Linked DNA regions of Homo sapiens: region 2 is linked to region 1. The links come from fine-mapping of genetic effects on gene expression. A gene starts in region 1. The other region holds a variant in brackets. All regions are shown on one strand. Distances are between the middles of the regions. Region 1 holds the start of ITGB1BP1 (integrin subunit beta 1 binding protein 1). Region 2 overlaps ADAM17 (ADAM metallopeptidase domain 17).

Evidence for each region.
Region 2: its variant is fine-mapped to the expression of ITGB1BP1 in whole blood (TOPMed, PIP 0.92).

The regions. Positions count from the first base shown.
Region 1 is chr2:9,418,665-9,430,128 of GRCh38, reverse strand. ITGB1BP1 (integrin subunit beta 1 binding protein 1) reads left to right here and starts at 6,601. Exons shown (of 7, transcript NM_004763.5): 1 at 6,601-6,756; 2 at 11,397-11,464. The coding sequence starts at 11,432. CPSF3 (cleavage and polyadenylation specific factor 3) reads right to left here and starts at 6,475. Exons shown (of 18, transcript NM_016207.4): 1 at 6,306-6,475; 2 at 1,301-1,364; 3 at 109-206. The coding sequence starts at 6,355. RefSeq lists enhancers at 6,239-6,288, 6,329-6,378, 7,249-7,298, 7,292-8,150 and a silencer at 6,809-7,108.
Region 2 is chr2:9,490,076-9,506,961 of GRCh38, reverse strand. It overlaps ADAM17 (ADAM metallopeptidase domain 17), which reads left to right. Exons shown (of 19, transcript NM_003183.6): 12 at 1,597-1,796; 13 at 4,686-4,789; 14 at 9,714-9,848; 15 at 12,195-12,325; 16 at 13,137-13,215; 17 at 13,976-14,064; 18 at 15,811-15,861; 19 at 16,444-16,886. The coding sequence ends at 16,785. It also overlaps a transcript of IAH1 not described here. Among named protein-coding and RNA genes, the nearest start is that of IAH1, 24 kb to the right of the region's middle. The variant C/T (reference allele first, on the strand shown) is at 11,511.

The DNA of each region.
Region 1 (11,464 bases):
CTAGCAGAAAACACTCTTTTAAAAAACCAAACTCTCAAAATCTAGTAAAGAATGATCTTGATAGTAAAAGTCCGTGAAAAAGTGTCATTAATAAAGGGAAAAACTTACTGACTAATTAATAGGAGATCAATCTCAGCTGGGTCAATTAAATCAATATAAGGAAGAGCATCCATTCCTTCTAGGCCAGGGTGGATCCCACAGTCGAGCTGAAAGAAACAGGAAAAGAGATCACAATCTCCTGCACATTTTATTAAAATTCATTCGGCAAATAGGCAATAATTCTAGTTCCATCACCCATATACTCAAGATGGACTCCAGGCACTAGCACTTGGAACATGATTCTTATTAAATGTGGCAAATATGCCATTAACAATTCTAACTTCCCAACAAATTTAAAATATAGCTCACATTTAGGGGTCACAGGATGCAAAGTACAAAACAGCTTCTTTCCAGCTACTTTTGGTCGTCATTCTAACAACGAATTAAATCTTTTTCAAAAACTTTGATATCAGATTAAAATTTTAAAAGTTTATAGATTTACTACTACCAGATCGACTCTCGTGAGAAGATAATAATTAGAAATGGGAAACTTACCTGATCAGGGTAATTTAAATATTTTAAGGCATTAGGGAACAAATTCTTAAGACTCAGTCATTAAAGTTACTTATTTTTATGGCGTTACTACCAAATTAACAAAACAGATGACTAAAAGGATGACTATGTCTGACCTATACATGTTCTTTTCAGATTGGGAGGAGTTGAGAAGAAAGAGGAATCAAAGGAATCTGAGACACAGAACTGACTTTCTAATGAGTACCTTAGAAACTATCTCCTCTAACCCCTCTACCTTTCAGGCTTAGAGAAGCAAAGTGACTTGGCCAAGGCCGGCAGCCCCAGTGGGACCTGGGGATCCAAGCTTCTAGGCCAAGGCTTGATCCCCACATGCTGGAGGCGGCTAGAGCTCTCAGTGTGTTCAGAGTGCTTGGGCCCTTGGGATCTTCCACTGGGGGTGGGGCAGTTAGGCTGGCTCAACCCTTCAGGAGTGGAAGAGGGACTTTGAAGAGGTAACAGTTCAACAGATCTAGCTGACAATTTTACAGTCATAGAATATATCTTCTTAATCAACTAAATTACTAAGTAGAAGTGTGTATTAGTTTTTCTCATTAACACTATACAGCATAGATTACATGTACTATAACATTTTTCTGGGAGCTAAAAAGATAACTAGTCTATGAGAAAAGACTAACACCCAATACAGACAGAGCCATACTATTAAACTGAGTACAAAAATAGTAATTACCATTATTTTTCTTCCTTTGAACTCGAGAATAATACATGATCTTCCTACTTCTTGCCCAGCTCCACTGTAAATATTCAAGGGGAGAAAAAGAAGGATTAAAAAAAATCAAAACCAAGTCCAATAAACTTACACTTTTTTACAATGTACACTACATGCCATCTGATGACAGCACCTCACTGAAAAATTCTGAGACGTAAGAGAGTTCTACAAAATCACAAAGACAGGGAAGAACAGTGTCCACATGAGAACAGATGAAAACTGATCCTTGGGAGTCCAGGGATCTTGCAGTTCTTAAAATTAAGAGAGAAGGCGGTACAGATCCAAGAAGCCCAAAGGTTTGGGCTTGATTTAAATTCAATTTTCTGAATTTTAGGATTAAATTATAATGTATTTAAAATGTAAACTAGCAGTTACGCAGATTATATAATAATACTTCTAGAATTAGCACTTAAGTAGAAAGCCATAAGCATTTCAACACTGTCATCTTCTTTAAGATCATAATGTGTATTTGCCAAATGGCTTAAATTTAAATGGCCGGGTGCGGTGGCTCACGCCTGTAATCCCAGCACTTTGGGAGGCCGAGGCAGGCAGATCACGAGATCAGGATATCGAGACCCATCCTGGCTAACACGGTGAAACCCCGTCTCTACTAAAAATACAAAAAATTAGCCAGGCGTGGTGGCGGACACCTGTAGTCCCAGCTACTCGGGAGGCTGAGGCAGGAGAATGGTGTGAACCCAGGAGGCGGAGCTTGCAGTGAGCTGAGATCGCGCCACTGCGCTCCAGCCTGGGCAACAGAGCGAGACTCTGCCTCAAAAAAAAAAAAAAAAAATTTTTTTTTTTAAAATACTTATTCATACTGTGAATTTCAATCACTTTTTCTTCTACTTTCTGTTATTTCAGCATATTTTATACCAACTACTTACATAATTTTTGTTTCTTCTTAATAATTTCAGCCATAATTTGCAATGGTCACAAGGCACACTTTAAGTTAAACCTCATCTTTCAAATCCCTCACCTTCTTTGATGCCTTTTCCCAACCATTCTAGCTCACAATCCACTCACTCACTCAACATTAAGCAGCTTCTATTTGCCAAGCACTGGATTAAGTGCCTAGGACATGGAAATGCCTTACAGGGACCCTGACCTCAAGGAACTCAGTCAGATGGACATGCAATGGATCTATCCCCAAACTGAGATCCTACCTCCAAACAGGTGTTGATACAGAAGATCAAACAACTGTGGATGAGAGCCGCCATAAATTCCTGGCCTTCCACTTTTTAAACATTTTTTATTTGTAATTATTGTGGATACCCTGGCCTTCCACTTTAACTGGCCCTCAATGTTGCCTGGCTGTTTTCTCCATTTCATTTCCATATCAACTATTTTCAAACTTTCTTCCCTTTCCCAAATTTTCCAACCTTCTATCCTCTTCTTCACTTGAGGCATGGGCCATCTTCTGCATCAAAAAAATAAACAGTCCATTTGTAAATTTCCTCAACTTCATGTTGGTACAATAATTAAGAATACATGTACCAACAGGGTACCAACCTGCCCACATCTGTCTCCTTCTATTTCTCCTCTATAGATAGAATAGACCTCTCTTTCCACAATGAAACTTTCCACCATTCTACTCTACGTACTCCCTCCCTCCTTCTGAGGAACTCAACACTGCTGTGTCATTGACATTTTCCTCACTGTCTGCTCTTTACCATCCAATCCAAATTTAAACATACTACAGCCATGTTCATCCCCAAATTAAAATCCCTTGACTCTAAGCTCCTTTAGTTCCCACTTTATTCTTTCCCCAGACCACCTCCCAGGGCAGTGGACCCTCTTGTACTTCCTCACCTTCTACTCGCTCCTCAATTCGCTATACTCTGGCTTTTACCAATCACTTTTCTGAAACTGTCCTTGCTGCTCAGTAGTCATTTCAGTCTTTTTTTTTTTTTTGAGACAAGGTCCCCCTATGTTGCCCAGTCTGGCCTTCAACTCCTGGGCTCAAGTGATCCTCCCGCCTCAGCCTCCCAAGTAGCTGGAACTATAGGTGTCAGTCCCTATCTTGTTCTCTTGGCAGCCGTTGTCACTCCTAAGGAGTACCTGCTCCTTCCTCAAGCACCTCTCCCTTGGCTTCTCTGACCTGATGCTCTCATCTTGTCTTGCTGGCTTTCCTGTTTCCTTCACATATTCAGCCACCTCTGCCTACCCTTTAAATGTTGATATTCCGAGGGTTTGCTCCTTGGCCAACTTCTCAATCTTCATTCTCATCTTTCTGACATGCTAAGGACTTCCAAGCCTGTATTTGTAACCCAGATTGTTCTTCTGAATTCTAGACCTTTAATACATACACGTGACACTAGGTATCTCTACTAGGATCTCTCCCGGGACTTCATATTCAAGATGCCAAACTAGTTTCCACCACATGCCCCGTACTTGCTCTACTTTCTTCCTGAAATGCTTTGTCTTCAGATATTGATGTGGTTGGCTCCTTTGTATCATTTGGGTCTCAGTTCCAACGTCACCTTCTCAGATGCTTTCCCTTGACTACCTCCTCTAATTTGCCCTTCACAGCAAGCCACAACCCAGCATCAGTTATCTTAATACAACTACATGAAGTTATTGTACCTACTTATGTCTTCTTTCAGGCTACTAAATGAAAGCTTCCTAAGAACAGAGGCATTGTCCATCTTATTCACTGCTGTATTGCTACAGTACCTGGCATGTAGCACATCACAAAAAATACTTATTGAATGAACAAAACTCCTCAATTTTGAACCTTGGAAAGATTATGCTAAATGAAAGATGCCAGAGACAAAAGAGTATGTATTGTATGATCACACTTACATGAAATGTCCAGAACAGGCAAATCTATAAAGAAGTAGATTAGTGGTTGCTTAGGGCTGGAGAGGTAGTGGGGATTGTCTATGACTGCTAATGAATACAAGGTATCTCTTGGGAGTGATGAAAATGTGCTGGAATTAGAGAGAGGTGATGGTTGTATAACTCTATGTTAAGAACGACTGAATTATACTCTTTAAATGAGTTGTATGGTATGTAAATTGTGAGTTGTATGGTATGTAAACTGTATCTCAATAAAGCTGTTACGAAACAACCAAATTCCCAAATTTACTCCAGAGTTGCCCCATCTCTTATACTCCTTGAGTGAATAACACTACCCTTTCCCAACTGCCAAACTTAGGAATCTGATCATAACATCCTCTCTGCCCTGCCTTCCCTCCCCACAACCACCCTTCCAGATACAGCTGATCAGCCACAAAATCCTGAAGATCTCATTTGCATACTCTCTCACACTCACATCACTCACTACAGGCTCTCGTCAGCTAGACTTAGAATCTTTCAATATCTCACTGAATCTGCTCTACTCAATCCATGCTTTTATTCATCCATGCTTTTATTCATCTGCTACACTGCTGCCAGGAGAGATTTTCCTAAAACATAATTCCCACAATATCCATGCTTGCTTAATAGCCTTCGCTGGCTCCCTGTAATTGACTTGATAAAGGTCCAAACTCCTGTGTATACGAGGTGCTTCCTAAACTGGACCTCAACTGCCTGTCGCTTCATCTGCTAACTCAACTCTTTAGCTACAGCCATGAGGAATCTGGCCACAAGCTGTGACCACTCTCACTTTCATATGTGCCACTTCCACTGCCTAGAACATCCTGGGCCCCCCAGTCTTTAACTCCTACTCATTCTTTAGGACTCAGCTCAGGCATCACATTTTTCAGGATCCACGAGGTATCCTTTTTTCCTCAATCTGTCAGAAATCCCTTTTCCATACTTTCACAGTGCTCAGTGCAATGCCTGCCTGCGTTCTTAGATTAGCTATTATTTACAAAGCACCTACCGCGATGTTCACTCTTCAAGTTTTATCTTATTTCCATATGAGAAAACGGGTTCAGTGAGATTGTTGTCCTACTAATTGGTCAAGTAGATAATGGACTTCAGGTCTGACTTCAAAGTAATAGTCTCCTATTATTCCAAAGTATCTCTCCAATATTTCCCACTGTGCACTGTAATTCTCTCCAAAAGAGCGAGAGCAATTAACTGGGCCCTCTGTTGCGTCTATATCCCCATGTGTGGTGCTTGACACTTGCTCAGTGTTTGCTCATCACAGGAAGACATGACAGGTGTGAACTAAGCAGAAGGAAACGGACTATGTCCCAAGCAGGTGCTCAATGAAGCCTTACTGAATGATTGTGTAAAGGAGATACTTTCTACCTTTTGGAAAGCGTATATTCATGTTGTGCCAACTAGTATCTAACAATAAACATGTTGTGGGTTCGAAATGCTCATCTGTAGGAATTCAAGTTCTCTACATTTGCATCTCCCCTTCAGCAGCATTCCCGACTGATGAGGATCGTGTCCACTGAAAGGCCACTCTCCTTATGGACAGTCGAGGGCTGAGTTTTTGTCCCTAACACCTCTGCACTTTCTCTTCTCCAGCTTTACACCTTCCTTATTCTACTAGGGCCTGAGCTGAGAAGATCGAAACTCACGGCAAGTCCCTAATATTTTCTAACTTCTGGCACATGTGAAGCCCTGGTGTTAAGAAACAGACTTAATTCTTCCCTGCACGGCTGTAGCCTCATTCAGGTCCTCCTCTCATCCTGTCGGTCATAAGCTTCACCGGCTCCCTCACAGCTTGCCCTGACGCGCAGAGATCCGTGCTTGTGCTAAGTGAAAACGCTTCTTAGCGTGTACGAAAGCGAGCGGTGGCCCCGTAAAACTTTTTTTTTTCCGACTCCAACATACCCTCCCCTGAAACTGATGAAAAAGCAAAATCCCGTTCACTCTATAGCAGGCCCCTTCCGATCAACGGTCCTCCAACCCCTCGAGCCTGAGAAGCCTGGCCCGCAAGCGCGGACCAAAGGCAGGCTGCCGGGGTAGGTGGGAGCGCGGGCGACGGAGGAGGCCAGTCTCCGGTTACCCCTCGCGCCCCTCACAGCCCGTGGCTTCATTCCCTCTCTCGCTGGTCCCTTACAGGGGTCGGATCAGCAGCTGGTCGCTCTCCTCAGCAGGAATCGCAGACATCCCGAAAGTGTGAGGGCGAAGCGGGGGTGAGGAACAGGTCGCCGGGGTCTTCCTAAATTGGAAGCACAGCCACCGGTAAATAAAAAAGGAAGAACCCCATTCACCAAGAGCACAACTTCCGTCACTCCGGAGCCCGCGGCACTAGACTCCTCCCCTCGACTTCCGGTCGGGGGACGCCGCTCGCGAGGCTTCCCACCACTTGGGGTCTTGGAACCGGGGGTAGGACGTCAGGACTGCGCCTGCGCATAGTCTTGGAGGCGCGGCCCGGCGGACGTGGGCAGGAGGGCTGGAAAAGCCGGCGCTGGAGCGGGAACGGGAGTAGCTGCCTGGGCGCCAAAGGCCGCGGCACTCCCACGCGGACCCCGAAGTCCGCAACCCGGGGATGGGCCCGCGGCTGCGAGGTGAGCGCCCAGCCCTCGTCCCGCTTGGGGCCGAGCTCGCGGAGGCCTGACGGGAACACGGTCCCGAGAGCGGCGCGGACGGCCAGGAAGGATGGGTGGGGCCGCGGGGCGGGCGGAGGAGGGATGCCTGGGCTCGGGCTTGGTTCCGGGCGGGGCCGCGCTCCCGGGGCGCGGGTGGAGGAGCTTGGAACCACGCAGATCGGGCGTGGGCTTGCGGACTGCAGCTTCCCGAGCCGCTGTCGCCCCGGAGGGGCGGCAAGGCGGGCGGCCGCGGGCCGTTTCCTTGCCTCTTCCTCTGCCCCGCTTCGGCCGCCTCCCGCCTCTCAGGGTCGGGGTTGTCTGTCCCCTTCGCTGTCACATCCTCCGCACCCAGCGCTTGGAAGGTGCTCCATCACGGTGACAGACAGGTGCCAAGCAGGCTGGCGTCTGGGAGGAACTTCGGAGCCGGCTCTCCCTAGGCCCCGAGCTTGGCCGCATCCGTCCTTACTCTGGTGACCCTGGGCAGGTCACTGACTCTTCGGGCGCTTTGGCATCCTCGTTTGAAAGGGGCTGTTATCCTGCAGCCTTGCTGGTCGGTGAGGGTGAGGGTGAGAGGGATCTGTGCACCTAGCACCGTGCATGGCACGTGGTAGGCGTTTGGTACATGGGAATCGCTGTTGGGGTGTCACCTCCCCAGAAAGTTCTCGGCTTCAGTAAGCGCGTCCCCTGCCAGGCGCCCTGGCAATGCAGAGGAGTCACCGAGCTCCGCCTTTGACCAGCGTGCAGCTGGGAGAGTGAGATCAGAGACCACAGCAGATCGTGGCGCTGTGATCAGGGGGTACACTCAAGCTGTGGGTCCCTTACCCCAGCCTTGAGATCCCAGGAAGGCCTGCAGCCTGAAACGGGCCTTGAAAGGTAAGAAGTAGCCAAGTGCCTGACAGGTGAAGGACGTCCCGGGCGGTGCAAAGCAGGGGCGCGTGGAGCATCGCGCTGAGAACCAGGAGCAGCTTTGCCTTGCTGAGATCAATGAACTGTGCCCGGGTTGTGGAGGATGGAAGTGGAAAGGTGATTAGGAGCTGGGTCCTGGAGGACCTGGCGTGTCGTGCTGAAGAACGTTGACTTTGGTCTCTGACTTTGGAGAACCAGTGAAAGATTTTCAGCAGGCTAGTGGCATTAGATTCATGTTTGAAAGAAATCATTTTAATCGTTTTGGCTGCAGTGTGGGGGTAGATTTAAAGTGTTAGGGAATCCAGTAGGACAAGGTCCCTTATCCACGAAATATCCTTGGGTTTGTGAATTCCTTAAATTCATGCCAAACTTTGTATGGATGTGCATTTTTATAGGGTGAGGATCCATCACATTCATCAGTTTCTAAAAAAATAGTGTCTGTGCCCATGGTTTAGGATGACGGGGGCCCTGGTGGAGAGCTGGCTCAGAGAGCTCTTCAGGTGGGGTATACAGTGGGTCTTGGTGCCAGATTGGATGTGGGGCCTGAAGGACAGCAAGGAAATCATGATTTTCTGGCTTCCTCCAGCAATAATAGAATCTCCTGACAGGGAGAGGAGAGGAGAGGAGCAGATCTGGAGGGGAGGATGATGGGTTCAGCTTGAGACATCTTTGCATTTGATGAGCCTGCGGAGCATCCAATCGCCAATCAGGATCATTGGCCTCATTTTGATGCATGAATAATTTTTTTTTTTTTTTTTTGAGACGGAGTCTCGCTCTTTCGTCCAGGCTGGAGTGCAGTGGCGCGATCTCGGCTCACTGCAAGCTCCGCCTCCCGGGTTCACGCCATTCTCCTGCCTCAGGCTCCTGAGTAGCTGGGACTACAGGCGCCCACCACCACGCACAGCCAATTTTTTGTATTTTTAGTAGAGACGGGGTTTCACCATGTTAGCCAGGATGGTCTCGATCTCCTGACCTCGTGATCCGCCCGACTTGGCCTCCCAAAGTGCTGGGATTACAGGCGTGAGCCACCCATGAATAATTTTGAGGCAAGAATGATTTGCTTGAGAACATGCATCAAAATTGCAGCAGATATCAAAGACTTTAATAAATGCTGCTTTTTCCTAAGCCGCTGGGTTGATGATGAAAAGAAAGCCTTAAGGAGTTGCTAAGGCATTGTCGTGTCATGATTTTCATATCAAGGGATTTGAGGAGACACTTCAGGATTCCACTGACAGTAGAATCACATTTTGTTTTTAAAATAAGTTTTGATTTAAAATTCAAATCATATTTAAAATTGTTACCTATATATAAATATGTATTTATATATACTTAAGTATCTGATGTTTAAATATGTTACACATCAACATTTTAACCCGTGAGCGCCATTAACATGGCACTTTATGCTGCTACGTTAACCTAGTTTCGTGCAGGCCTTGGAATAAGGCTCTCCTGCCATCTCTCACTGACAAGTGTCCTGTGCTGGTAAGGTTCCCCTTTGCAGCAATCACCCGCAGTCTTCTTCCAACACATCTCTCACTTTTTACCCTTATCCAGTGGAGTTAGTTCGCTATCTGGCAGCCAGGGTCATCGTTTAAAAAACAGAAGACACCTGATTGTGTCGCTAAACTGCTTTTTAAAAGCCTCCATTCCAGAAGATCACAGCAGATAAGCAAAAAATAAATAAAAAGCCTTCAGAGTATTCCTCTTAAACTAAAGTCCACTGTTACCGCGGCCTGCCTGGCCTTCTGTGGCACTTTGGGCCCATTGCTGTCCTCCTGCTCCCGGACAGCCTTGACTGTTCCCTCGGGCCCCTCTCCACCCGCACGGCATTGCCTCCAGGCTATTTATGGCTGCCCGCACTTCTTTCAGAAAAAGAGCTACAGCATCTTTTTCTGAAATACCCACCCCTTCCTTCCATTAGTCTGTGTCTCCTCAACTTGTGTTAGTTTTCCTCATAGCAGTGGTTTCCTAATAATATGTTTCATGTGTGTTTTTCTTGTTGGTCTGTCTACTCTCGCTAAGAACAGGCTCCCTGAGGTCAGGGGCTCTGTTTGGTTCACTGATGCATCCCCGACACCTGGTAGGTGCTCACTGACTATCCAGGAATGAATGAATAAATCAGATTTTCCTGGTACCCCACAAATAAAGCAAAAATATAGAAGTAAATTGGATGATGAGGCTGATTAAAAAGCTTGGGCTCAGTGGTCAGACTTGGGCAAGTGGCCTAATGTCGTCCCCTAGTAAGTGGACTTAGAGTGGGGTCTCCAAATACGGAGAATCTTTGGGTTGCAGCAGGAGCTTTCACTGACTGCTGCGTGAGTTGCTCGTTCTTTTTCCTTCATCAGGTGCGTAGTTTCTCTGAAAAGCATCACCCAGGTCAGAATGAAAGGAAACTCTCTGTGCAGACCGCTGTATGTGGGACCTTTGAAGACAGTCAAATAGTGTTCAATTCTATAGTAAGCAGATTTTCTTGTTCTCTCTGGAGAATACAGTTTTTGGTAAAAAATTGATCAGGTTATCTTATTCATAAATCGTCTTGAGAGGCAGGTCACAGTTCCCTCATCTGTAAAAGGCAGATTACAGCCCACCTTCTGTGAGCCCCTTGAGGGAGAGCTTAGAGCCCTGCAGAGTGTGTGGCATATGGTATGCCCTTAAAAAGCATCAGTAGAGCAAATGGATATGTCACAAGGTTATCATGAGGCTATGACAGTAGAACTGTCCCGGGAGTTCTGTGAGCTGTGCAGCTTCATGTAGGTTAGTTAATTTGCCAAGTATAGTATATGCTGTCCTTATGCAACTGGCAAGGATGAATCTTAGTTTCCAATGCATTTATTATTATTAATTTCAAAAAAAGAAATATGTAACACAGACTCTGGGAGGCAAGGTCATCTCCTTAACTACGCTTAATAGAGAGGGGAGGTGAGGTGCTGGCACCTGGGAATGTCTTTGTGTCAGCTTTTACTTAAAGGTATTTCAAAACTTCAAGAAAAATGCACATTTCTGAGAGGTGTGTATATCTTAGCCCTACCAAGTATAGAATGTGAAACTGAGAGGGTTACTGAATCTTAGTATCTCGACTGAAAAGCCAATGTGTCATAGTATATTTTGCTAAAATCTTGACTCAATTGAAGAGAAGTAAGGCCCTTAAAATTTTGAGAACTAGGTGACGTGTCTGAAAATTTTGAGAAAAGTGCTTTTCACACCTGTAGGACAAGAAGGTTTCTGCCTTTTTTGCTTATTGGGTTAACTTTCTATAATTTAATAGGAAAGAATGAAAAGGAATAGTATCCAAGGGAAAAGTTAATTGATGATTTTTATTTCTATTTTGCATAAAGTGATTTAATGTTGCATTTCCTGATGTAACTGTAACCAATATCAAAGTTGCTTTTCCTGGCTGGGCATGGTGGCTCACAGCTGTAATCCCAGCACTTTGGGAGGCCAAGGCGGGAGGATCGCCTGAGAGCAGGAGTTTGAGACCAGCCTGGCCAACATGGCAAGATCCTGTCTCTACAAAAAATGAAATTAGCTGGGTGTAGTGGCACATGCCTGTAGTCCCAGCTACTCGGGGAGGCTGAGGTGTGAGGTCAAGACTGCAGAGCCATGTTTGTGCCACTGCACTCCAGCCTGGGTAAGAGCAAGACTCTGTCTCTTAAAAAAAAAAAAAAAAAAGTTGCTTTTCCCGATGTAACTGTTACCAATATTTGTTTTTTCAGGGGATCTTCTCTGGATCAAGCAATGGTGGTGAAAAATGTTTCGCAAGGGCAAAAAACGACACAGTAGT
Region 2 (16,886 bases), 74 kb before region 1:
GACAAGGATGCAAACAGAAGCTGCCAGATCTTCAGGGATGTGTAGGCAGAAAGCCAGAGTTGCGGGTTGGTCCTTTTATCGTTAGTGCTCTCCAGCTGCTTGGGAGTTGTAACTCTGACAAATCAGTGAAGAGGTCTTCTTATCTGTTCACTGTGAATTTTAACTCCATTTTAACCTGATAAAATGGAACCCAGAGATACATGATGTTGATGAATAAACCCACCAAAATGACAACTGCCTGAGGCCCCGATTAGAATAACCAGACCCCTTAGACATCTGTACTGTAACGACAGATTTGGGCCGGGCGCGGTGGCTCACGCCTGTAATCCCAGCACTTTGGAGACCGAGGTGGGCAGATCATGAGGTCAAGAGATCGAGACCATCCTGGTCAACATGGTGAAACCCTGTTTCTACAAAAAATACAAAAATTAGCTGGGCGTGGTGGCATGCACCTGTAGTCCTAGCTACTCAGGAGGCTGAGGCAGAAGAATCACTTGAACCCGGGAGGCGGAGGTTACAATAAGCCAAGATTGTGCCTCTGTAGTCCAGCCTGGTGACAGAGCAAGACTCCATCTAAAAAAAAAAAAAAAAAAAAAAAAAAACAGATTTGAAGATGTTTTTTAAAAAGCCAGTTAGTATTTCTGTGTAAGATGAGGTCTTTGCTATCTTTCTGAAAGTAGCTCCTTTGGTGTCTGATTTGGTGGTTACAGGCACCTTTGGAGGGTCTCATACACTTGGCTCTCAGGGGCTTCATGATTGTTGTCTGGGGTGAAAGTGAAGCCATTTTGGCATCTGCAGAGCACTTTGGAGACCCCGACCTAAGAAGTAACTATGCTCAGTTTTCCCTAAGCCTCTTCTTTTTTTGATAACTTCAGGAGGTCTGGAAAATGACCGCAGTTTTAGAGCTCCTGATAAAACCCTCAGCCTTAAAAGGGAGTTATCCTAGTGGTTCTGTACTCCAGGGTGGGAAGGTAGTGTAGAGACTTTTTGAGACACTGGTCTTGCTGGTTGATGAAAATGTTTAGGTAACAATTGGGGATTTAATTTATATAAAATGTACTATTATGCCTATTACTAAGCTCAAATATTTAAACAACTTTAAACTTGGATCATCCATATAAGTAGCCAAAGAAGGAGAAGAAACCCCTTCTCCTGCATTTCTGAATTGTTTTGTCTGGGACAACATTAACCTACAGAGGTTCTTAATTCTTGTCACTGCATGAGTGGCATGCCTGAGGTGAGGAGATTTCAAGTCTGATGGAGCTACGAGCTCTCTGTTGTGCTATTCTGCTTGTCCTTAAGTGGGCTTTGACTGGGATGTTTGGTCTCAGTATTTGTATAGCTTGCTTACCTTCGTAAGAAGAATTATAGATCCTTAACCAAGTTCACATCAGCCATTTAGCATTCTATGGAGGGAGGTTCCCAGTTCCATATCAGTGGCCTTTGGAGGAGACTGTGGTGGCCTTGCCATAACTCCAGGGTGGCTCTGATGGTGGTTTTACATTAAGAGTTTGTCTCTAGAGAAGACACAAACATTGCATGGGAATACATTTTTATGATATTATTTTGGGTCCTTATTGCCTTTTTTCTCTCAAGATGTTTTCAAACTGCAGTAAACAATCAATCTATAAGACCATTGAAAGTAAGGCCCAGGAGTGTTTTCAAGAACGCAGCAATAAAGTTTGTGGGAACTCGAGGGTGGATGAAGGAGAAGAGTGTGATCCTGGCATCATGTATCTGAACAACGACACCTGCTGCAACAGCGACTGCACGTTGAAGGAAGGTGTCCAGTGCAGGTGAGGAGTCTCTCCACAGGGATTTTGGGAAGTTGGTATAACAAGATGTCCAAAATAAGAGAAGACTGAACTTGCAGGGGCTTTAGAATCAACTGAAAGGGGTGTGAGTGTGTTTGTTTACATCTACCTCTTTTGCCCTTCACAGCAAGAAATTGCTTTCTGGGCCTGGCACGGTGGCTCACTCCTGTCATCCCAGCACTCTGGGAGGCTGAGGTGGGAGAAATGCTTGAGAACAGCCTGGGCAACATAGTGAGACACTATCTCTTAAAAAACAAAAAACAAATAAGAAAAGAAGAAGCTTTCTGGAAAGCAGTGTGACATTATGTAACAAAATCCTTGACCTTGCATGCTCCTTGGTTTAGCAGTCCTATAGTTAAAAGAATCTTTTTTTTTTTTTTTTTTCCTGAGACAGAGTCTTGCTCTGTCGCCAGGCTGGAGTGCAGTGGCGCGATCTTGGCTTACTGCAATCTTTGTCTCCCGGGTTCAAGTGATTCCCCTGCCTTAGCCTCCTGAGTAGTGGGACTACAGGCACGCACCACCATGCCCGGCTAATTTTTTGTATTAGTAGAGACGAGGTTTCACTACGGTGGCCAGGATGGTCTCCAACTCCTGACCTTGTGATCCATCCACCTTGGCCTCCCAAAGTGCTGGGATTACAGGTGTGAGGCACCGTGCCTGGCAAAATAATCTTTTTTATTTAATTTAATTTATTTATTTATTTTGAGACGGCGTCTCGCTCTGTTGCCAGGCTGGAGTGCAGTGGCGCGATCTCAGCGCACTGCAATCTCCGCCTCCCAGGTTCAAGCGATTCCCCTGCCTCAGCCTCCCCAATAACTGGGACTACAGGTACGCACCATCACGCCTGGCTGATTTTTTGTATTTTAGTAGAGACGGAGTTTTAGCATGTTGGCCAGGATGGTCTCGATCTCCTGACTTCATGATCTGCCCACCTTGGCCTCCCAAAGTGCTGGGATTACAGAGGGGAGCCACCGTGCCTGGCCTTTATTTTCTTTTTGAGACAGGGTCTCAGTCTGTTGCCCAAGATGGAGTGCAGTGGCATGATCATGGCTCACTGCAGCCTCAACCTCCCAGGCTCAATCAGTCCTTCCACCTCAGCCTCCCGGATAGACAGGACTACAGGTGTGTGCCACCTGGCTAATTTTTTTTGTATTTTTTATAGAGATGGGGTTTTGCCATGTTGCCCAAGCTTGTTGTAAAGTCCTGGGCTCAAGTGATCCACCCTTCTAAGCCTCCTAAAGTGTGGAGATTCTAGGTATGAGGCACCATGCCTGGCCCAAATAATCTTTTATTTCTTTTTTTTTTTTTTTGAGACGGAGTCTTGCTCTGTCGCCCAGGCTGGAGTGCAGTGGCGTGATCTTGGCTCACTGCAACCTCCGCCTCCTGGGTTCAAGCCATTCCCCTGCCTCAGCCTCCCCAGTAGCTGGGATTACAGTGTGCACCACCACGCCCAGCTAATTTTTGTGTTTTTAGTAGAGATGGGGTTTCACCATGTTGGCCAGGCTGGTCTCGAACTCCTGACTTCGTGATCTGCCTGCCTCAGCCTCCCAAAGTGTTGGGATTACAGGCGTGAGCCACTGCTCCTGGCTGCCCAAAGAATCTTTTGGGCAACAGAGATAAGATTTAACAAGGGTATAAGATTTAACAAGGTTTTTTTATGGCTACATCCTAATAGCAAAATTTTGGAAACAATCAAAATGACAGTCTTGGGATATGAATGTTATCATGATTCTATATACTGGAATAGTGTGGAGGAAGTAGGTTACAAGTTAGAAAGTTACCCAGGTTTTCATTTTTTATATACACTGATAGACCAGTGCCTGGCTTAGAAGTAAAAGGGTTAAACTTCAGTTTTCTGGTGAATAATTGAGATTTAACTGGATACAGTGCATATTAACGCTGTAAATACTGATGGGGAGTAGAGTTCTGGCTGCCGAGTGTCTTAGCTATGGATTGCCTTGTGGCCCCACCTTGTCTTTTTTTTTTTTCCTTGTCTTTTTTTTTTTTTTTGAGAGAGTCTCGCCCTGTTGACCAGGCTGGAGTGCAGTGGCGCGATCTTGGCTCACCGCAACCTCTGCCTTCCAGGTTCAAGCTATTCTCCTGCCTTAGCCTCCCGAGTAGCTGGGATTACAGGCATGTAGCACCATGCCCGGCTAATTTTTTGTATCTTTAGTAGAGACGGAGTTTCACCATGTTGGCCAGGCTGGTCTCAAACCCCTAACCTCGTGGTCCACCTGCCTCATCTTTTTTTTTTTTTTTTTTTTTTTTGAGACAGAATTTCTCTCTTGTTGCCTAGGCTGGAGTGCAGTGGTGCGATCTCGGCTCACTGCAACCTCTGTCTCCGGGGTCCAGGCGATTCTCCTGCCTCAGCCTTCTAAGTAGCTGGGATTACAGGAGCGCACCACCACGCCCAGCTAATTTTTGTATTTTTAGTAGAGATGGGGTTTCACCATGTTGGCCAGGCTCATCTCGAACTCTCCTGACCTCAGGTGATCCACCCACCTCGGCCTCCCAAAGTGTTGGGTTGGGATTATAGGTGTGAGCCACCTCGCCCAGCCCATCTTGTCTTTTTTAAATTAATGCGTTAAATGAATGAAAACCAAGGGCACCAAGATGTTTCACAGGTGATTGCTGTGTTCCCATTCTTTTCTCCTATAGTGTGGCATTTATGTGACCTCACGCACATTAGGAAGGGACAAAGTGTGTGCAGGTAGCTCTAGCAGCGGAGATGTCTGATGATGTAGGAGTGGGTGACGGAGCCAGGAGGTCTTCCCCGGTGATCTTCAGGTCACTGTAACGTAACTGTAGCGTTTGATTTGATATGGGGCCATAATTTGAATTGCTCTGTTCCTGTCTGCTGTTCTTCTCCAGTGACAGGAACAGTCCTTGCTGTAAAAACTGTCAGTTTGAGACTGCCCAGAAGAAGTGCCAGGAGGCGATTAATGCTACTTGCAAAGGCGTGTCCTACTGCACAGGTTCGTGTTCTTGTTGCTTCCTTGGAATGCTGTGGGTCAAGTGTGTGTGTGTCTTTGAAAAACAAGATTATGTTTTGTTCAGATGAGAGACACCTTATTTTTAATCTCATATGCCGGGTTGAGTTTCTGGCACTCCTTAGTTTGTGACACTTGGCTTTGGTGGGTTTAAGACCTGTTTCTATTTCTCTTTCATTTCCATCACTCTCCTCTTTCTCCTCACAGACATCCACTCTACTGTGGTTAATATTTGCCTGGATATGTGTATATCCTTGAAAGATCATATAGTGTTATTTTGTGCATGTATGTGTTTTTAATGTGCCAAAATGATATTCTACCTTAAATTTACTTTTAAAAAATTCAGTATCATGTTTTAAAGAATTACCCATATTGTGCTACAGATAATATAACAAGGTTTTTAATGGCTACATCCTAATAGCAAAATTTTGGAAACAATCAAAATGACAATCTTGGGATAATGAATGTTATCATGAATCTATGCACTGGAATAGTGTGGAGGAAGCAGGATACAAGTTAGAAGGGTAACCAGTTTTTCTATATGTATCTATATGTATTTCACTGTTGGGGACACCTACATATTGTTTAGTTATATGATTGGCTGTGTTTTACTTACAAGTCACCAAGTGGTAGCTACTTCCATTGCCTTCATCCCCTTGATATTCCAGATAGGACACAGATCACATCCTCCTACGTCCCTTCAGGAACCTGTGTGTTTCTCTGGGTACTGAGGAGTGTCATTGTGTAGTCACAGAGGCAGGATGTGCTGGTCTCTAGAGCACCACTGCTAGGTTGCCTGTGTCTGAGGACTCCTTATCCTGACGTTCTGGCCAACGCTTGGAATTACCCTGCTGTCCTATTAGCATGATGAGTATAAAGTAATCTCTTGTTCTTACTTTTTTTTTTAACAGCCCTTGTCCTAATGCACTTACTTACATTTTTCTTGAGCATCTCTTTATATTTTTCAGCTATTCAGATTTCTCCTGTGAATAGCCAGTTCATATATTTGGTTCATTTTTTAAAAATTGGGTTTCATGTTATTTCACTACTGTGAATTTGGAGGAGTTCTTATGTAATCATCCATTTGGGCATACGTCTCCTATCTGTTGCCATTCTCAGAACAGAAATCTTTAACGTAATCAAATCCATCATTTTGTTGTGTGTGTGTATTTTTTAAACACATGGTTCAGAAAAGCCATGGCGGATGGTTAAAAAGATATTTTCCACAGCTGCTTCTATTAGCTTCATAAGTTGTCCTTTTACATTCAGGACTTGAATCTTTCTGGAGCTAACCTTTCCAGGTGTCCAGTATCTTTTGTTCGGTCAATTGTTGCTTTAAAAATTTCAAAGCTATGTTATTACTAGGTATATAAACGGACATATCTCTACATCTTTATCTGCTGTTCCTTACCAGTATATAATGTTCCTTTTTTACCCTTGCGATGTTTTTTGACTTAAATTGTCAAAAAGCAATATTCAGTTTGCTATTCTAGTTTTTTTGTTCCTCTGATATATCTATCTGTCCCATTCTTATATTTTTCAAAATTTGTCTCTCTTGGTTGGTTGGTTTGATTTTGTAATAGCTTTATTGATACATAATTCACACTCATGTAGTTTGCCCATTTAAAGTGTACAGTTTAATGATTTTTAGTATATTCAGATTTATGCAGTCATCACAATTAATTTTAGAACATTTACATTACTCCAGAAAGAAACCCTGTATCCTTTAGCTATGATCCTCCAATCCCCCCATTCCCCACAACTCAGAGCAACCACTAACCACCCTATTCTTTATGGAGTTGTCTGTTTTGAACATTTCATATAAATGGAATTATACAATATGGTTTCGTGACCACATATTGTATGACTGGCTTCTTTCACTGAACATAGCATTTTTAAGGTTCATGTATGTTGTAGCATGTATCAGTACTTCATGTACTTTTATTGCTGGGTAAATTCCATTGCATGGATATGCCACATTTTGTTTATTCATTCATTGGTTGATAGACATTTGGGTTGCTTCCACTTTTTTGCTATAACAAATAATGCTGCTGTGAACATTTATCTATGAGTTTTTGTGTGGACAGTTCCTTTGGATATTATTCAGGAATAGAATTTCTGGGTCATGTGGTAACTATGCTTAATCTTTTGAGGAGCTGTCAGACTGTTTTCCAAAATGGCTACACCATTTTACAGTCTCAGCAGCATTGTATGAGGGTCCCAGCTTCTCCATATCCTCACCAACACTTGTTATCTTTTTTATTGTAACTATCCTAGGTTTTGTGATAAGGATGCAAACAGAAAGCTGGAGGTCTTCAGGGACCTAGTGAATGAAGTTGTGTCCTATTTTGGCTTGATTTTGGTTTTCCGTGTGCATAGTATGACATGTTGCCCATGTTTTTATCTTTTGGGATCTGTCACTATCACATTACTTTGCCAAATGTTAGGAACCTGATGGCCCGGCACAGTGGCTCACACCTGTAATCCTAGCACTTTGGGAGGCCGAGGTGGGCAGATCACGAGATCAGGAGATCGAGACCATCCTGGCTAACACGGTGAAACCCTGTGTCTACTAAAAGATACAAAAAATTAGCTGGGCGTGGTGGCGGGCGCCTGTAGTCCCAGCTACTTGGGAGGCTGAGGCAGGAGAATGGCGTGAACCCGGGAGGCGGAGCTTGCAGTGAGCCGAGATCACGCCACTGCACTCCAGCCTGGGCAACAGAGCAAGACTCCATCTCAAAAAAAAACCAAAAAAACAAATGTTAGGAACCTGAATATCTAAATCAAGCTTTAAAGAAGCATTTGCTAGCTATGCTCAATGTTTCATCTTCACTGTAATAATAAAATAGATTGAGAAAAATGCTTTCTTTTAAATAAACGTAAGTAAAACAATTTGAAAACGTTTGTTCTTATCAAACAGCCTTTTGTTCCCTTGATATTTTATACAAAATAGTAGATAGCAGAGGATAAGTTCCTGATAAGGAATCAGTATTTTCTAGCAGGAAAAGCTAGAGAACAACAACCTCAAAAAAAAAAAAAAAAAAGAAGAAGAAAGAAAAAAAGCAATTAGCATTTCACAACCAGCAGCAGCAGCATCACCTGGGAGCTTATTAGAAATGGAAATTGTCAGTCCCCTCCCTGGATCTACTGCATCAAAAAATGTGGGAAGGGAGGCCAGCAGTCTGTGCTGTGTAACCTTCTGTCAGGTGATTTCCATGCATGCTAAACTTTGGGGACCATGCTAGATAGATGATACCATTTTCAGAATTATTTTCCTACCTGTCTAATACTCTGACTTTAGTCTTTTAAGAACAGATGCTCAACAGATATTTATTGAGCATTTTTTAATGTATCAGGGCAGTATCATATACCAAAAATACAATAATGATCCACAATATAAACCTTCCCTGAGCTCACTGGACATCATACTTTCAGTAATAGTTTGTTAAATGACTGTTGACATGATGAATGCCCAGTGCTCATGAAAGGTTTTATGAGAACCAGAGGCAAAGTGCCTGGTTATCTGTTGGGTACTTAATAAACCATCACTTTTGTTTGAAACTGGCCAGATTTTCTGTACATTTTGTGTTACTGCTCTGAAACCCTCTAAGTCAGAATTCTTTTGATTGGCTTCATTCTTCAGCTGAAAGGCCAGTCCAGAGCTGTGGATATATAGTCCATTGCTTTCATAAAGTGTTTTTTTTCTCCTCCTCTATTTGTGTTGACTTTTAGCTACTTGTGCTATTCATTTTCCAGAATGATTCACTCATTCCATCCTGTCTCTCCCAGTTTAACTTTCTTTGGTGGGTTTTCTTTGGCATTATTGGCCTGGGCACAGTGGCTCATGCCTATCATTCCAGCACTTGGAAGGCCAAGGTGGGAGGATCCCTTGAGCCCAGCAGTTTTACACCAGCATGGTCAACACAGGGAGATCTCGTCTCTCAAAAAAAAAGAAAGAAAATTAGCCAGGTATGGTGGCGTACGCCTGAAATCCTAGGTACTTGTGAGGCTGAGGCAGGAGGATTGCCGGAACCTAGGAGTTTGAGGCTGCAGTAAGCTATGATCACACCCCTGCCTTCCAGCCTGGGTGACAGACTGAGACCCTGTCTCAAAAGAAAAATAAAAAGAATAATTGATTTATTTAAGAAATATTTGTAGTATACCTATAATATGATAGGGATTGGAGATAACTTAATAGATTTGATCATTGCTGTCATGGGGCTTTCCAGTCTAGTAGAGGGAAAACAGAAAATAACATTAAATATATATATATAAATTGCAAAACATATGCAATGAAGGAGAGAAGGAGTGTGATAGTGCATAATGGAAGTGGGAGGCCACATCAACTTAGCATCCTCAGGGATATCTCAGAAAACCTTTGAGACAAAACTTAATCCATAAGAAAAGCCAGCTAATTGCCCCAAAAGAGTGGAAACACCAGCATTCCAGGTAGAAGGAATAGTATCTGTTAATATTGAAGGAACTGAATGGAGGTTGTCATAGCCAAAGCAGTGGGCTGTGGGAGAGTTGTGTGCGATGAAGTCAGGGCCAGATAGGGAAGGCCGTGGAGTTCTTTTAAGCCTTCATACAAAGTTTGCAATTTATTCTAAGTAATAGCACATAGGATATTCTTTTATATATGACTGTGAGATGCAGAAGTGGAGACCATGCATTCTAACTGGGGCTTGGGAGGCCAGGGACTCATGCAGCCTAGCCTGGCACATAGCCAGGCACTCCCATTTAAATGCTGATTGCTGGTGAGATGCAGGCTCTTGTCCTAGCTCTGTAGGTCACTTTTTGCTTTTGCAAGGTAAGATGCTCACTTGTATGAGAAACAGCGTATTATGCACCTGTAGAACTGGTGGACCTGTGACTCATTCTTTTTGTTATGACTGGTGTTTGCTTCCAGGTAATAGCAGTGAGTGCCCGCCTCCAGGAAATGCTGAAGATGACACTGTTTGCTTGGATCTTGGCAAGTGTAAGGATGGGAAATGCATCCCTTTCTGCGAGAGGGAACAGCAGCTGGAGTCCTGTGCATGTAATGGTGAGCAGTTTTATTCCCAGTCCAGCAGCAGGAGAAAACATGGCCTTTGTCTGCCAGGCTCCCTTCCTCCATTTGGAGGTTGTGCGAATGACAGCAGTGGTGAGATCCAAGCCGAGGATGAGGGGATGGGGAAGGGCAGGGTGGTGTCTGGAGACAGGCATCTCTGCATGCAGATCCACCATACCTGGGAGACCTATCCTGTTGGTGTTTCTTCTTGCTGCAGTTTCAGGCCATATGGCAGGCTTTGAGGTGGGAGAGGAGGGAATTTTGTTGGGGGTGAGTGGGTGGGTAGGTAGAGGTGTGTCCTAGCCTTCCTCTGCTCCATATCATACAAACCACAAAAGCAGCAGTAGCTATCTACATTACATTGGCATGGAACTAGGATACTCCTGCAACAACTCCACCAGAGAGAGCTGATTCCAGGACCTAACCCCACTAGATGAGGATTTTTGCAGTTATCAAGAAGGCTGGGTCTGCTCCCCTCTGATCTCTTAGAGCAGCCTGGGGCAGGAGCCTCTCTCCTGCTGGCCTGTCAGTTTTCCTTAGGTTTCTGTGCTATTTTGGAACCCCTGGGTTTGAGGGCATCCTCATGGACTGGTCAGGGACTGGCTGGACTCTGCTTCCCACCCCACTTAAACCATGGGAGTCGATGAGGGAGTTCTCTTGCTTTCAAAATAGACAGAGAGCCAGGTGTGGTGACTCACACCTGTAATCCCATCACTTTGGGAGGCCGAGGTGGGCAGATCACTTGAGGTCAGGAGTTTGAGAGCAGCTTGGTCAACATGGCAAAACGCTGTCTCTACTAAAAATAAAAAAAATTAGCCGGGTGTGGTAGCGTACACCTGTAATCCCAGCTGCTAGGGAGGCTGAGGCAGGAGAATTGCTTGAACCCAGGGGGCGGAGGTTGCTGTGAGCTGAGATTGCGCCGCTACACTCTAGCCTGGGCAACAGAGCGAGACTCCATTTCAAATAAATAAATAAATAAGTAAAAAATAAAATAAATAAAAGACAAAGAACCCGGTAGTTAAATAAAATCACTGGGTTGGAAGCTCACCATCCATACAGTGGAGTGAGGAACTCTTCCAAGTTCAATAATGTGTAGGTAAAGAAGATAGGTTGAGGGCAGTGTCTCACATCTATAATCCCAGCACTTTGGGAGGCCAAGGTGGGTGGATCACTTGAGCTCAGGAGTTGTTTGAGACCAGCCTGGGCAACATTGTGAAACCTCACCTCTTAAAAAAAAAAAAAAAAAAGGTAACACGTAGCAGATGCCAAATAAATCTGTTGTGTTGAATGCCAAGAGGCTTGGGGTGCTCTGGAAGGACAGAGCCCGACACAGTAAAAGTCCAAGAAATATTTTATAAATTAGTGAATGATGAAAAGGTTTTCTTTTTTTTTTTTTGAGATGGAGTCTCACTCTCGCCCAGGCTGGAGTGCAGTGGCGCGATCTCAGGTCACCGCAGCCTCCGCCTCCCGGGTTCAAGTGATTCTCGTGCCTCAGCCTCCTGAGTAGCTGGGACTACAGGCAAGCACCACCACATCTGGCTAATTTTTTTTATTTTTAGTAGAGATGGGGTCTTGCCATGTTGGCCAGGCTGTTCTCGAACTCCTGGCCTCAAGTGATCTGTCCGCCTTGGCCTCCCAAAGTGCTGGGATTACAAG[C/T]GAGAGCCACTGCTCCCGGCCTTTTCTGAAAAGGTTTTCTTTTTGCTTGTTTTTGTGTTCTAGTTGATTTCTTTTTCTCCTAAGTATGGTTTAATTTTCTGGCATTTCTGCCATTCTTATGTATGCCCACATGGCTCACAGATGCCCGGTGTTTTATCCTGTGACCTGTCAGAGCTGTTCTTGGGAGGAGTTGTGGAGCTTTGGCTGCAGGGCTCATGCTCCTGGGGTCACTGAGCTCCCCACCCAAGGGTGGACAGTTGTGTCCCAGCTGCTCTCGCTTTCAGGGAGCCAGTGTGGGCCCTGAGGGGCACACTTTAGACTGAAAAACCAAGGATTGAAGTCAGCAGGGTGACAAGAAAGTTGGGACAAAGGGAAGCATTTAGAAGAGCATTGTGAGGGGCTTGAAGGGGAGAGAATAGTTAGACTTTGAAGAGAGGTCTTGAATCTAGAATGGATTTTTCTCTGCATTTTTTTTTAAACCTTGTGGCCTCTGTCACTGAAGGCTGAGGAGTGTGACCTCAGAAACTACTCCTTGGTGGGGGCTATGGATAGTATTAGCTATTTAAATAAAAAATAAATGTGATTTCTTACCTCTTTGGGAGCATGGTCAGGGAGGAAAGAGGAGGCAGGAGGAGAGGCAGGTCTCAGAACAATCCAGCTGTCAATGCGTGTTCTCTGTTCCAGAAACTGACAACTCCTGCAAGGTGTGCTGCAGGGACCTTTCTGGCCGCTGTGTGCCCTATGTCGATGCTGAACAAAAGAACTTATTTTTGAGGAAAGGAAAGCCCTGTACAGTAGGATTTTGTGACATGAATGTGAGTATTTATGTACAGCTTTTTCTGTAACAGCCAGATAGGAAGTTTTTATTTTGTAAGTACTTGATTTTGCAGATGAAAACAAATCAAAACACAAGTGGGGCTACATCCTTCTGGCCCATTGTTATCTACGGGTATTACTTAGGAGGAGAAGACGGAGTGCTTTCAGGTCCCTGCCTGTAGTTTCCTTCTGTGGTGGGAGGCTTTGAGCCCAGAGACTGAGAAGGACTGGGGTGGGGACTTTATGGTAAAGTTGGTTGGTTTCAGGCAGTGGGTCCTAATTATGTTTTCCTAGATTACTTACAGAACTGACTAAGATTGCAAAATTATTCAGGGTGTGATTTTGAAACAGGTGCTGAATGAGTAGGAAAGACCTAGAAGGCTGCTTGACTTACTTAAGCCAGACCCTTTTGTTCTCTAGAGAAGCATAATTTTTCTCATGCAGAATGATGGGAGAGGGTTTTAAGATTTACGAGGCTTCACAGGGAGTCTGGCTGTGTTGTTCACTGTCCACTGTGTATGTGTAGAGTCCTTACTGGAATGCCTCATCTTTAGCAAACTGGTTTCCTTGATTTTTGTCTCCTGGTAATTCTAAATCACTTGTAAAAATGGAGTAATTATGAAAGTGTTAATGACAGATGTTCTACTTTCTTGGGTACTCATTACGCGGAAGTTATTGCCTTGTGTCAAAGATGGGAAAACGTTTGATTTTAATGAAGCCCTTTACATGTCAGTTATTTTTATAAAGCTACATTGCTTCTGAATACATTGTGTTTGGGAATGATGCTGTATGTATGTTTTTTCTTCATAGGGCAAATGTGAGAAACGAGTACAGGATGTAATTGAACGATTTTGGGATTTCATTGACCAGCTGAGCATCAATACTTTTGGTAGGTGATTTCCCCAGATTACTTACTGAGAGCTGAGTCAATTTCTGTGATGACATTAGAAAAGTGTGCTTTCAGAGTGATGTGCTTTAATTCTGCAGTAGAAGGTGGAACTATTCACAGCTTTAGTTATGAAACAACTTTGTTGGCTAGAATAAAATGAACTCATAGATAGTCTGTCCCCGTGGAGCTTGGATGCACAGATTTTCTGACAAGGGAAATAAAGTCAAAATACTGGCTTCCTTCTTTACCCAAAAATATCCATGTGATTAGCATAAGCATAGTTTAATGCTATAGACTGAATCCTGATTGATGTAAGAGTGTTTATTTGACTGAATGCTATATACTGAATCCTGCTTGATGTAAAAGTGAGCCTCATATTTTGCAGAAGCAGGGTATATCATGTTGTCACGAGTCCATAATTTAATCACAAAAATAATATCCAGGTAACAAAAACTTTGTCTTCTTAAGCATTTACTAGTAGTAGCATTCCATATTAATCTGTTGACACAGCTACTCCAGGTAACATGTTGAATATTCTGCAATCTCTTCCTGTCAGCCAGTATATGAGGGCTATTTCTTTAAAAGCACTTGGTATGGAGAGATGGTGTGGTGTAATACAGGCAGCACAGACATTCTGCTCTCGGTAGTATGTCTAGCCAGCAGCTCTGGCATTTGACACAATGGTAATATCCTAAGAGCATTTCACTTTAGATTTGTGAAGTACTTGGTCAAGACATTAACTGTTTGGAATTGTTCACAGGAAAGTTTTTAGCAGACAACATCGTTGGGTCTGTCCTGGTTTTCTCCTTGATATTTTGGATTCCTTTCAGCATTCTTGTCCATTGTGTGGTAAGTCATCAACTTTTAAGTAATTAAATGTTTTATTTAAATTTTGATCAACTCCAACCATGTAATCTCTGGAAAAGGTAAAACTTGTTCTTAGCAAAGTTTGGCCTGATATTTCCAATAGCTTTTTTTGTTGTTATTCCTAGGGGAACATGTCTTGTAGAAAGCTTAACTAATGGTCTTTTAAAAAAAATACTATTTTTGTGTGTTGGTGTTTTAATATATAAATTTCTTAGGAATTTTATACTTTTAAGCATAGGAGACTGTTTAACTGGATTTGTCCAGGTCCTTTGATGAGTAAAGCCCTTATTGAAGAGCATTTTCAGGCTGACTTCGTTGCAATAGAGCAAATATCAAACATCGGCATTTCAGATGTTCCCCATATATCATGTAGATTATTGGCAGCAGATGGCTATGTCTTCAGCCTTCTGCACAAATAGGATGTAGGGACTGGGGCCCAGCTGTCATATAGAGTATTTACATCTTCCCCAAAAAATAAGAGTAAGCAGTCTTTTCTGTTCTCATTCAGAATCAGTAACAGCTACAAGTTGAATTGGGCTTTGACTAAGGAACTCCTGGTCCTTTATAAATTTGAGGCCCTTTTTCATAAATGTTCTTACGAATCCATTCACTTGCATCTGTGGGGAATGGGGATTTGTCTGCTGTAGAGATGAGAAAGTCACACCCAGGCTTCCAGACTTGTTTTCCCAAACTCTTTCATAGTGGCCTTCCTATGAGCATTTAAAAATTCCAGCACAACTCTGATGACAAAGGAGTTTTTCCTACTGCCTCCTTCCTTTCCTTTCCTGCTGGCTTCTCCTGCCTAGGGGCCATCTCACAGAGCAGCTCTTCCTCAGGGTGGTGAGCATGATGGGTATAGGAAGATCTCTAGGGAGCACTTGTGCTGAAGAAAGCTGAAGGTGACGTGCTTGAAGCTTTGACAGATGTCTCTGGATGACAGTGCCATCCATCACGATTGCTTCTATTGGAGGATGGAACCTATTTTGTTTACAGGGAAGTTGCACATGTGGACAAGGCACGACCCTTGATTTCAGAGCAAAGCCTCCGATAGGAGGGAGGGCCATGGCTTGTTTTTGGTCATAGAATGCATTGATGGCACCCAGACAGGAAGCCTAGTCCTGGATTCTTGGTCCTTGCCCTCTGTCACCTATTATGCTTCAGCCACAGGCAGGGATGGGGCAGCAGATGGCCATGTGGTTAGCCTTCTGCAGAAGTAGGATGTAGGGATTGAGGCCCAGTTCCTCCAGCAGAGCATGGTCCACAGAAACTGTGGAGACAGCTAAGAGAGTGAGGCCATGGGCCGGGGCAGTGCGAAGAATGCTGCAGGCCCAGCCACCTGGGTCTTCCTACCAGTTGCCCTTCCAGTCAGTGCGGTCCTGGTGTACCCAGCATCTGGGACATTTGTCATTTCATGCACAGGAAGATGCCTTTATTATTCCCCTGCCCACAGAGGGATAAATTTCTCAGAAAACATAGCACTTAAACCTTGCCTCTTTCTGTACTTAACGCCAAAATGTATTTCCTTTGAGTGCAAAGGAAACACTTCTAGACTGGTGGCATAACTAAAGCTTGGGTGAGAAATGGATTGTCATCTGTTGAGCCTGCTATCACTTTCTACAACTCAGGTTCTAAGTTCTTCAGTTAGTGTTAGGAATAGCCTGTGATGAAATAGTACTCACTAACTGAATTGTATTTGTAGGGAATGACCTTCTTGCTGTTTCTTTCTAGGATAAGAAATTGGATAAACAGTATGAATCTCTGTCTCTGTTTCACCCCAGTGTAAGTATACCATATGAAAGAAACATAATCTTCGCCTGGTCTGAGGCCCTGTTAGGCAAAGACCTTCACCTGACCCAGCAAGAGCTTTCACTGGCTGATGGAAGGTCATGTTGCAGCAGGAAGGGTCTAGGTTGGAATGTTTACCCTTCTGACAACAGTGATGGTGAACTTCGATTAGTTGCATGGATGGACATTTAAAGAGCTGTGCTGTCCCCTTCCCAAGCCATAAGGAGTGATTTAGCCATTCAACACTTAGTTAATATTTTGAGTTCAATTTCTCTCTTGGGATCTTACCTTGAGAGGTTTGAATCCTCTTTTGGGTCTTCAAATGGTAAGTAAGTTTTCAGGATGCTTGAAAGCTAGTAATTACTGTTTTTGCCATTAAAAGTAATGGCATTAATTACTTTTGCACCAACCTAGTATTTTTTAGTCACTTAGGTTGAGTGAGCCTCACCTAGCACTTTTTTCTTAGCATCACAGTGCCAACAGAATAAGAGGCTGTTTGATGGGTAAGGGTGGAGCTGTGAGGACCTCCGATTCATCTTTTATTCCTATCAATCAATTGAACCCATGTCTTTGCAGAACGTCGAAATGCTGAGCAGCATGGATTCTGCATCGGTTCGCATTATCAAACCCTTTCCTGCGCCCCAGACTCCAGGCCGCCTGCAGCCTGCCCCTGTGATCCCTTCGGCGCCAGCAGCTCCAAAACTGGACCACCAGAGAATGGACACCATCCAGGAAGACCCCAGCACAGACTCACATATGGACGAGGATGGGTTTGAGAAGGACCCCTTCCCAAATAGCAGCACAGCTGCCAAGTCATTTGAGGATCTCACGGACCATCCGGTCACCAGAAGTGAAAAGGCTGCCTCCTTTAAACTGCAGCGTCAGAATCGTGTTGACAGCAAAGAAACAGAGTGCTAATTTAGTTCTCAGCTCTTCTGACTTAAGTGTGCAAAATATTTTTATAGATTTGACCTACAAATCAATCACAGCTTGTATTTTGTGAAGACTGGGAAGTGACT